Linked DNA regions of Homo sapiens. The protein of the gene in region 2 purifies or fractionates together with the protein of the main gene of each other region. This does not show direct contact. Each region holds a gene or a part of one and is shown on either strand. Other genes may lie near its edges. The genes, in order: LIG1, NCAN and MNAT1.

Region 1 (3,551 bases), about 29 Mb from region 2:
AATCCCAGCACTTAGGGGGGCTGAGGAGGGTGGATCGCTTGAGGCCAAGAGTTCAAGATCAGCCTGGCCAACATGGCGAAACCCCATCTCTACTAAAAATACAAAAATTAGCCAGGCGTGGTGTCACATTCCTGTAATCCCAGCTACATGGGAGGCTGAGGCAAGAGAATCACTTGAACCCGGAAGGTGGAGGTTGCAGTGAGCTGAGATCTCATCATCGCACTCCAGCCTGGGCAACAGAGCGAGACTCTGTCTCAAAACAAAATCAAAACAAAACAAAACAAAACAAATTCGCATCCTCTGTCATGCTGGCCACCTGTCAAGGGCTCGGGCATTGCAGGTGGCCAGTGGCGGTCACACTGCACAGAGCAGATAGAGAAGACGCCCACCACTGCAGGCAGTTCCATGGCTGGCACTGGCTCTGGCAGTTCCTAGGCCATGGCTACATGGCTACATGCTATGCAGGTGACACCCATGACAGCTTTGCCCCCAGAGCCCAGCACAGACCCTGTCACAAAGTAGCTATCCAATAATTATTTATTGAAAGAAATGACGGGATGAATCCCAGACTCCGGAGTAAGCCACCCCCTCACACACACACCCCTCCCCTGACTCTCAAAATCCACAGCCTGCCACAGCAGATTTGCTAAAAAGCAAAGGCAATAATAACCCTGGGGTCCGTCCAACTCATGCCCTGTACCCAGGCCCTAGGAGGGCGAGGGCTTAGTAGGTATCTTCAGGGTCAGAGCCTGAGTCCTCGCCTTGTTGGTTCTGAATCTGACTTTGCTTCCGGTACAAACAGGCCACCTGCGGAGAGAGGGTGGGACGGGGTGGTCAGAAGCTCCCTGGCTGCTCCCACCTCCACAAGGTTCCAGAGAGGCCACCACGCTAAAAAGCTGGTAGGGCCAAGCAGCTGGGCGGCCCACCCCTGCTTCCCAGGACCTCACCTGAGCACTGGTGGTGGCCTGCTCCGGCTGCTTGTCTTCACGGACTCGAATAAACCGAGGGAAGCGAAGGGAGATGCCCTTGTCACTATCCACCTGCGGAAGCGGGATGGAGACTCCTGCGGTCCAGCCCCAGCGACCCCCTGCTCAGTCTCCTCCCTCCTCCACTCTGGACTGTTTCCTGATCCACATGACGGGGCCGAACGATGGGTTGTCATAAGGATTAAACAAGTTGACAAAGTGCTTGGAACAGTACCCGGGCACAGTAAGTGCTCAAGAAATGCTGCCTGTTGGCCGGGTGCGGTGGCTCACCCCTGTAATCCCAGCACTTTGGGAGGCCGAGGCGGGTGGATCACGAGGTCAGGAGATGGAGACTATCCTGGCTAACACGGTGAAACCCCGCCTCTACTAAAAATACAAAAAGAAATTAGCCAGGTGTGGTGGCGGGCGCCTGTAGTCCCAGCTACTCAGGAAGCTGAGGCAGGAGAATGGCGTGAATCCGGGAGGTGGGGAGCTTGCAGTGAGCTGAGATTGCGCCACTGTACTCCAGCCTGGGTGACAGAGCGAGACTCCAACTCAAAAAAAAAAAAAAAAAAATGCCACCTGCTACAGCCGTTACGATAATGACGGTAATTCGGGCTGAGAGGCTGAACTACGGCGCCAGGGTATGGGTTCTAGAATCTGACTGTGGGATTCCAATCCCAGCTCCCAACTCTCAGGAGCCGCGTGATGCAGGGGCAGTTACTCAGGCTCTCTAGGGCTCTACATCCTCACCGTAAAATGGAGATGTTTGTGTCACTACGTCTTACGGATTTTGAGAGGATTAAATGAGTGTCTATGAGTGACACGCTGATGACCACACAGTGCCCACTGCACAGCAAGGGCTGGATACACACCGGCTCCTGTGCCTTGTTACTAAGGGTCCCTGGCTGTCTAACGTGCAGCATGGTAAAACATTTTTAAAAATTAGATCAAAAATGTAAGTTCTTGGCTGGGCATGGTGGCCCACACCTGTAATCCCAGCACTTTGGGAGGCCGAGGTGGGCGGATTGAGGCCAGGTGTTTGTGACCAGCCTAGTCAACATGGTGAAACCCCGTCTCTACAGGCACGGGTCACCATACCCAGCTAATTTTTCTATTTTTTGGTAGAGGTGGGGTTTCACCGTGTTGGTCAGGCTGGTCTTGAACTCCTGACCTCAAGTGATCTGCCTGCCTCGGCCTCCCAAAGTGCTGGGATTACAGGCATGAGCCACTGTGCTTGCCCTGGGAATTCTTTTATTTAAGAAAAGAATTTTCTTTTCTTTTTTTGAGACAGAGTCTTGCTTTGTCACCCAGGATGGAGTACAGTGGTGTGATCTCGGCTCACTGCAACCTCCGCCTCCCAGGTTCAAGCGATTCTCCTGCCTCAGCCTCCTGGGTAGCTGGGACTACAGGCACCCGCCATCACACATGGCTAATTTTTGTATTTTTGGTAGAGATGGGGTTTCACCATGTTGGCCAGGCTGGCCTTGAACTCCTGACCTCAAGTGATCTGCCTGCCTCGGTCTCCCAAAGTGCTGGGATTACAGGCACGAGCCCCCATGCCCGGCCCATTTTTAAAGAAAAAATGTTTTGATCTTTTTATCTGACACTCAAATAAAATGCAAGCTCATCTTCCTGATCCTTACCTGGAAGAGCAGATGTGAGCCAAGGTCCCCTCCCTACTCTGCTCTCTGTGTGCCCGCCCAGAATCCCACACAGGGCCACGGCCAGGTCCTCTGCCACTCACCAGGCCCCGCGCAGCAGGGTAGATGGGAGAGAGGGAGAGGTCAGCGCACTTCACCTCCCACACAGCGCTGGGGTCCAGCCAGTGGTCGGGAATCACAGCGCCATCTATCCGCACGTAAGGGCGTGGGCTGGGCAGCACCAGCGCCTGCAGTGAGCAGAGGAAGAGAGGAACAGAGGGTCTGGAATCTCAAAGTCAAGGCCAAGTGTTGGAGGGCTGGGGAGAGGGAGGAAGGGAAAAAAACAGGCACCCCCTTGAAGTAAACAGAAATAGGAAGTGAAATAAGGGAAAAGAAACAAGACACCCCCTTGAAGTAAACAGAAATAGAAAGAGAAACAGAAAGTGAAAGAAGGGAAAAGAAACAAGACCCCCTTGAAGTAAAAAGTTGAGAAAGGTGGGAGTTGGGAGGAATGGGAGATGGAAAGAAATGAAAGGCCCTGGGGGCTGAGGCAGGACATTAAAGACAAAAAGAGGCAGAGAAAGGGCCAGAGACCTGGAGGAAGGAGACAGAGACACAGTGGGACAGGGACAGAGATGTAGAGAGAGAGGGCAATGGAGAGAGAGAACCAAAGAGTGGGACAGAGATGGTGTCAGGGTCCGTGTGTCCCCACCCACATCTTGTCTTGAATCATAGCTCCCAAAATCCCCATGTGTCGTGGAGGGACCTGGTGGGAGGTAACTGAACGATGGGGGCAGGTTTTTCCCGTGCTGTTCTCGTGATAGTGAGGAAGTCTCACGAGATCTGACGGCTTTATAAAGGGCAGTTCCCCTGCACACGCTCTCTTGCCTGGCGCCATGTAAGATGTGCCTTTGCTCCTCTTTCGCCTTCTGCCATGACTGTG
Region 2 (3,651 bases):
CCATCTCAAACAAACAAACAAAAAACAACTGGTTATTCTCATCCTTAAAGGCATGCAAACTAAGATAACAATGAGATACTATTTTTCCCCACTTAGATGAACAAAGAACAAAAGTTTAAGAATGTGCAGAGTTAGCAAGGGTGGGAGGAAACAAGCACTCTCATACGCTGGTGGAAAGTGAGAACTGGCTGCACTGACATTTACCAACTTAAAAAGATGAAGGCGAGGTGCAGTGGCTCATGCTTGTAATCCCTGCCCTTTGGGAGGCCGAGGTGGGTGGATCACCTGAGGTCAGGAGTTCGAGACCAGCCTGGCCAACATGGTGAAACCCCGTCTCTACTAATAATATAAAAACCAGCTGGGCGTGGTGGCATACGCCTGTAATCCCAGCTACTCAGGAGGCTGAGGCAGGAGAATCACTTGAACATGGGAGGCAGAGGTTGAAGTGAGCCAAGAGCATGCCTTTGCACTCCAGCCTGGACAACAAGAGCGAAACTGTCTCCAAAAACATAAATAAGTAAAAACAAAATAAGAATAAATTAAAAAAATAAAATATAATCCCACCCACCTTGGCCTCCCAAAGTGTTGGGATTACAGGCATGAGCCACCCCGAGCGGCCTATTTCCAGAACTTTTTCATCACAACACACCAAAATTCTATACCCATTAAGCACTAGTGACTCCCCCTTCTCCCAAACCCTAGCCCCTGGCAAATACTAATCTACTTCTTGTCTCTAAATTTGTGTACTCTGAATGCTTCATGAAAAAAAAAAATGAATCAAGGCTGGGCACAATGGCTTATGCATATAATCCCAGCACTTCGAGAGGCTGAGACAGGCAGATCGCTTGAGCCCAGGAGTTCGGGACCAGCCTGGGCAACATGGCAAGACCCCATCTCTACAAAAAATACAAAAATTAGCTGGGCATGTTGGTGCATGCCTATAGTCCCACCTACTCGGGAAGCTGAGGCAGGAGGATGGCTTGAACCCAGGCGGTGGAGGCTGTGATGAGCCATGATTATGCCACTGCACTCCAGCCTGGGCAACAGAGAACCAGTGAGCAAAAGTGACAGAGAGGAAAAGAAGCAGGGGGCACAGCATACCTGTGCCCTTCTTGCAGACATAGGGTAGGTTGTAGTTGCAGGGGACATCGTTCCAGCGCCCGCTTTCATGCGCCACCATCACCACACAGTCCTCGCCACCCGCGAAGAAATTGTCCGGCTGGTTCTCTCGCCAGTTCTCAAATTGCTGCAGGAATAGGGGGCAGGGAGTTGTTCAGGGGACCTCTGTTCCAGCCCAGGTTCTGGCAATTCCTGCTGTGGGACTCCCCTGGCCAGACCCCTCAAACTCACAGGGATTCAGTGTTCCCATCTCTACAATGGCCACTGTCCTGCCCATCCTGACGGGGGCCACCACTGTAATCCAATACACCATTCCTCTGGTTTGGAGGCTGCAGCATTCTCCTCCCTGGTCCTCCTGCCTCCCTGGGTGCCCGGCCGCACCCAGTTCATTTTCAACATGAATCAGTGTTAGATAAGTGGTGGGACAAGGCCAGGCCTGGTGGCTCATGCCTGTAATCCCAGCACTCTGGGAGGCCGAGGTGGGCGGATCACCTGAGGTCAGGAGTTCAAGACCAGCCTGGTCAATATGGTGAAACCCCATCACCACTAAAAATACAAAAAATTAGCCAGGCATGGTAGTGGGAGCCTGTAATCCCAGCAGGAGAATTGTTTGAACCCGGGAGGCAGAGGTTGCAGTGAGCCGAGATTGCGCTATTGTACTCCAGCCTGGGTGACAAGACCGAGACTCTGCCTCAAAAAAAAAAAAAAAAAGGAAAAGAAAAAGAAAAAAGATACATGGTGGGACAAATGGTGATCTCAGCCCGAAGTCCAGGAGGACTTCCCTGAGGAGGCAATGTGAGAGTTAAAGAATCAAAGATAGTAAGGATTCAAGGCCGGGCTCAGTGGCTCATGCCTGTAATCCCAGCACTTTGAGAGGCCAAGGGGGTCAGATCACTTGAGGTCAGGAGTTTGGGACCACCTTGGACAACAAGGTGAAACCCTGTCTCTCATAAAAATACAAAAATTAGCCGGGCATGATGGTGCGCGCCTGTAGTCCCAAGATACTCGGGATGCTGAAGCAGGAGAATCCCTTGAGCCTGGGAGGCAGAGGTTGCAGTGAGCTGGGTTGCATCACTGAACTCCAGCCCGGGTGATGGAGTGAGATTCTATCTCAAAAAAAAAAAAAAAAAGATAGTAAGGGTTCAGACAGGGAACAGCATTCCTAGCAAAGGGAACCACCAGTGTGAAGGCTCAGAGGCAGGACTGAACTTGTTCTGCTTGAGGAACAGACAAAGCCCAGTGGGGCTGGAGCTGCGTGATGGGGCTGGGGTGTGCTCAGAGAGTAGAGAGGGACCAGATCTTGCATCAGAGAAAAGGAAGTGAATTTTTAAAAATTGTGGCAAAATATATATAGCGCAAAATATATATAGCACATAATTCCTAATTTTAACCATTTTTGTTTTGTTTTGTTTTGTTTTGTTTGAGACAGAGCCCAGGCTGGAGTGTAGTGGTGCGATCTCGCTCACTGCTACCTCCGCCTCCCAGGTCCCGGTTCAAGCAATTCTCCTGCCCCAGCCTCCTGAGTAGCTGGGATTACAGGCATGCGCCACCATGCCCAGCTAATTTTTGTATTTTCAGTAGAGATGGGGTTTCACCATGTTGGCCAGGCTGGTCTTGAACTCCTGACCTCGCGATCCACCCACCTTGGCCTCCCAAAGTGCTGGGATTACAGGCGTGAGCCACCGCACCTGGCCAATTTTAACCATTTTTACGTGTGCAGTTTATTGTTATTTTTATTTTGTTGAGACAGAGTCTCTATTATCCAGGCTGGATTGCAGTGGTGCTACCTTGGCTCGCTGCAACCTCCGCCTCCCGGGTTCAAGAGGCGGTGTGCAGTTTAATGCACTAATTACATTCACAATGTTGCATAACCATCATTGTTATTTCCAGAACTTTTTCTTTTTCTTTTTTTTTTTTTTTTTTTGAGATGGAGTCTCTCTCTGTCGCCCAGGCTGGAGTGCAGTGGCATGATCTTGGCTCACTGCAACCTCCGCCTCCCAGGTTCAAGCGATTCTCCTGCCCCAACCTCCTGAGTAGCTGGGATTACACGTGCACGCCACCACGCCTGGCTAATTTTTGTATTTTTAGTAGACACAGGGTTTTACCATATTGGTCAGGCTGGTCTTGAACTCCTGACCTTGTGATCCATCCACCTCAGCCTCCCAAAGTGTTGGGATTACAGGCCTGAGCCACCCCGCACAGCCTATTTCCAGAACTTTTTCATCACAACACACCAAAATTCTGTACTCATTGAGCACTAGTGACTCCCCCTTCTCCCGACCCCAGCCCCTGGCAAACACTAATCTACTTCCTGTCTCTAAATTTGCCTACTCTGAATGCTTCATGAAAAAAAAAAATCATACAACAGCTGGCCTTCTATGCCTGGCTCATTCCACATTTTGTTTATTATTTTATTTTATTTTATTTTTGAGCCGGAGTCTCGCTCTGTCTCAATTTTTGAATTTTTTGTAGAGATGGGGTTTCGCCATGTTGCCCAGGCTGGTCTCAAACTCCACAACTCAAGCAATCCAC
Region 3 (3,651 bases), on a different chromosome or scaffold from region 2:
ACCCTAACAAAGACTAAAATCAAGCCCCAACAAGTTTTTGAAGGGATTAAAAATGTGAGGTTGAGTTACACTAAAGTAAGGAAACAATGGGTTCTCCACATATCATTCTAGCAAAGAGTAAAACCAAGCCTACACAAGTTCAAAGTTATCTGCCAGTAACTGAACTACCTGCAAGAATTTTTAAAATCAACACTTTTCACAAAAATACAAAATCCAGAATCTCTATAATATACCACCTACAATTAAAAAGTAGTAAACATGCAAAAATAAATAAGCAGAAAACTGTAACCTACAGTCAAATAAAAGCAGTCAATAGAAACCAACCCTGAGATGGCTGGGCGTGATGGCTCACACCTGTAATCCCCGCACTTTGGGAGGCCGAGGCACGCAGATCACTTGAGGTCAAGAGCTTGGGACCAGCCTGGCCAACAGGGCAAAACCCCATCTCTACTAAAAATACAAAAATTAGCCAGGCATGGTAGCAGGCACCTGTAATCCCAGCTACTTGGGAGGCTGATGCAGGAGAATCACTTGAACCTAAGAGGTGGAGGTTGCAGTGAGCCAAGATCATGCCACTGCACTCCAGCATGGGCAACAGAGTGAGGCTCTCTCAAAAACACAAACAAAAAAGAAACCAACCCTGAGATAGCCAAGGAGTTAACTCTTACAGACAGAAACCTTAAGATTGACTATCATAAATATTTTAAAGGAATTAATGGAAAATATGTTCAAAAAATTAAAGGAAAATGCATTCAAAGAACTAAAGAAAAATATATTCTTGATGAGTATATAGATGGGAAATATCAGAGAAATGAAAACTATAAAAAAGATAAAAATGAAAACTCTACGACCAAAACAATACAATAAGAAATGAAAAATCTATTGGATGAGATTAGAAATGGCAGACAGGCAACAGTGAACCTGAAGATAGATCAATAGAAAATATATAATCTAAAGAACAGGGAGAAAGAGATATGAGTAAAATTAACTTCTCAACAGAAACACTAGAGAACAATGAAATGATATCTTTTGTATGGTCAAAGAAATGCCAACCCATAATTCTATATTCAGCAAAAATATCCTTCAAACACTAGGGTGAAATAAAAACACTTTCTTATAAACAAAATCAGAGTATATTCTTCACCAACACACCTACACTATAAGAAATGCTAAGGAGCTGGGCGCAGTGGCTCACGCCTGTAATCTCAGCACTTTGAGAGGCTGAGGCAGGCGAATCACCTGAGGTCAGGAGTTCAAGGCCAGCCTGGCCAACATGGTGAAACTCCATCTCTACTGAAAATACAAAAATTAGCCGGGCATGGTGGCACACACCTGTAATCCCAGTTACTCAAGAGGCTGAGGCAGGAGAATCGCTTGAACCTGGGAGGCGGAGGCTGCAGTGAGCCGAGATTGTGCCATTGTACTCCAGCCTGGGCGACAGAGCAAGACTCCGTCTCAAAAAAAAAAAGAAATGCTAAAGAATGTTCTTTAGGCAGATGGAAATCAATATGACTATAAAATCAGATCCAAAGGAAGAAGGGCAATATCAAAGATAGTAAATAGGTGAAAATAAGAGACTATATTTCACCACTTCATACCCACTAGAATGGCTATAATCAAAAGACAACTATAACAAGCATTGGCAACTACATAGAGAGACTAGAGCCCTCATTCACTGCTATAAGATGGTACAGCCACATTGGAAAACAAACTAAACAAAGAGTTACCATATGATCCAATAATTCTACTCCTAAATATATACATGAGAGAAACAAAAACATTTGTCCATACGAAAACTTGTACATGAATGTTCACAGCAGCATTATTCATAACAGCCAAAAAGTAGAAATGACTCAAATGTTCTTCAACTGATGAATGGATAAAATGTAGTATAGCCATACAATGGAATAATATTCAGCAATAAAAAGAAATGTTGTACTCATACATGCTACAACATGGATGAACCTAGAAAATATTACACTATGTAAAAGAAGCCAGTCCAGAGAACCACATACTGTATGATTCCATTTATATGAAAGGTCCAGAATAGGAAAATCTACATAGTCAGAAAGTAGATAACTGGTTGCCTAGTGCTATGGGAGGGGGGAGTTGAGGAGTGTGACGGCTAAGTGGTGAGAGGTATCTTTGTGGGGTAATATGTACATCTCTGAGAATATACTAAAAGCCATTGAAACGTACACTTTAAATGTGTGAATTTTATGGTACGTGAATTATATTCAGTGAAGTAGTTTTTTAAAAACATACCTTTCCTTAAAGACAACTGACTGTTTAAAGCAAAAATAACAACAAATCACAAATACAAATAAAAGATATGCTGAAAGAAACCACTAATAATAATAATAACAATGAGGAGTTAATTGTTGGCCATAAAAGGTGACTGTAATCCCAGAACTTTGGGAGGCTGAGGTGGGTAGATCACTTGAGGCCAGGAGTTTGAGACCAGCCTGGGCAACACAGTCAGAGACTAGCTCTACAAAAAAAAATTAAAAATTAGCTGGCTGTGGCAGTGCACACCTGTAGTCCCAAATTCTGGGGTGGCTGAAGTGGAAGGATCCCTTGAACCCCTGAGTTCAAGGTTGCAGTGACCTGTGATAAAGCCACCACACTCCAGCCTGGGTGATAGAGTGAGATCCTGTCTCTTATTTAAAAAAAAATAAAAATAAATAAAAAATAAAAAGCTACCGGCTAATAGGCCAATACTTTAAAAAATCCAATTATTTCAAAATAAGGCAGGAAAGGAGCAAAAGAACAACAAAAAAACCAAAGGAATACAAGGAAACATGTAGACTTAAACCCAATGATATCAATAATTAGATATAATGGACTAGTACACCAATTAAAAGGCAGAGATTGTCAATCCAGATAAAATGGCAAGACCCAGTGAAGTAGAGTCTCCCAGAGACAGACACAAATTGGTTGAAAGTAAATGGATGGGGGCCAGGTACAGCAGCTCACTCTTGTAATACCTACATTTTGGGAGGCCCAGGCAGGAGGATCACTTGCGCTCAGGCGTTTGAGACCAGCTTGGGAAACATAGCAAGACCCCATCTCTACTAAAAATTAAAAAAAAAAAAAAAAAAAAAACCCCAGGCGCAGTGGCTCACGCCTGTAATCCCAGCACTTTGGGAGGCCGAGGCAGGAGGATCACGAGGTCAGGAGATCGAGACCATCCTGGCTAACACAGTGAAACCCTGTCTCTATTAAAAATACAAAAAATTAGCCAGACGTGGTGGCCCGTGCCTGTAATCCCAGCTACTCGGAAGGCTGAGGCAGGAGAATGGTGTGAACCTGGGAGGCGGAGCTTGCCGTGAGCTGAGATCGCGCCACTGCACTCCAGCCTGGGCAACAGAGCGAGATTCCATCTCAAAAAATAAAAATAATAAATACATAAATAAATAAATAAGCCAGGTGTGGTGCCATGCACCTGTAGTCCTAGCTACTCAAGAGGATGAGGCAGGAGGATCATTTGAGCCCAGGAGTTTATGATTGTGCCACTGATATTACATGGGTTAAAAAATTTTTTTAAAGTAAATGAACGGAAAAATGCACACTATCAAATAGTAAGCACAAGAAATCTGACAGTGCCAAATTATTATCAGACAGAATCTTCAGGAAAAAGCATATTACAAG

The links.
Region 1: the proteins of NCAN (region 2) and LIG1 fractionate together in Homo sapiens (co-fractionation; one large-scale study listed by BioGRID). This does not show direct contact.
Region 3: the proteins of NCAN (region 2) and MNAT1 fractionate together in Homo sapiens (co-fractionation; one large-scale study listed by BioGRID). This does not show direct contact.

Annotation. Positions count from the first base shown.
Region 1 is NC_000019.10:48,114,926-48,118,476, forward strand, and holds the end of LIG1 (DNA ligase 1), read right to left. Parts: intron 2,857-3,551; coding exon 2,713-2,856; intron 1,041-2,712; coding exon 948-1,040; intron 808-947; coding exon 724-807; 3' UTR 520-723; downstream 1-519.
Region 2 is NC_000019.10:19,242,908-19,246,558, reverse strand, and holds part of NCAN (neurocan core protein precursor), read right to left. Parts: intron 1,247-3,651; coding exon 1,102-1,246; intron 1-1,101. UniProt on the Homo sapiens protein: May modulate neuronal adhesion and neurite growth during development by binding to neural cell adhesion molecules (NG-CAM and N-CAM). Chondroitin sulfate proteoglycan; binds to hyaluronic acid.
Region 3 is NC_000014.9:60,741,113-60,744,763, reverse strand, and holds part of MNAT1 (CDK-activating kinase assembly factor MAT1), read right to left. Parts: intron 1-3,651.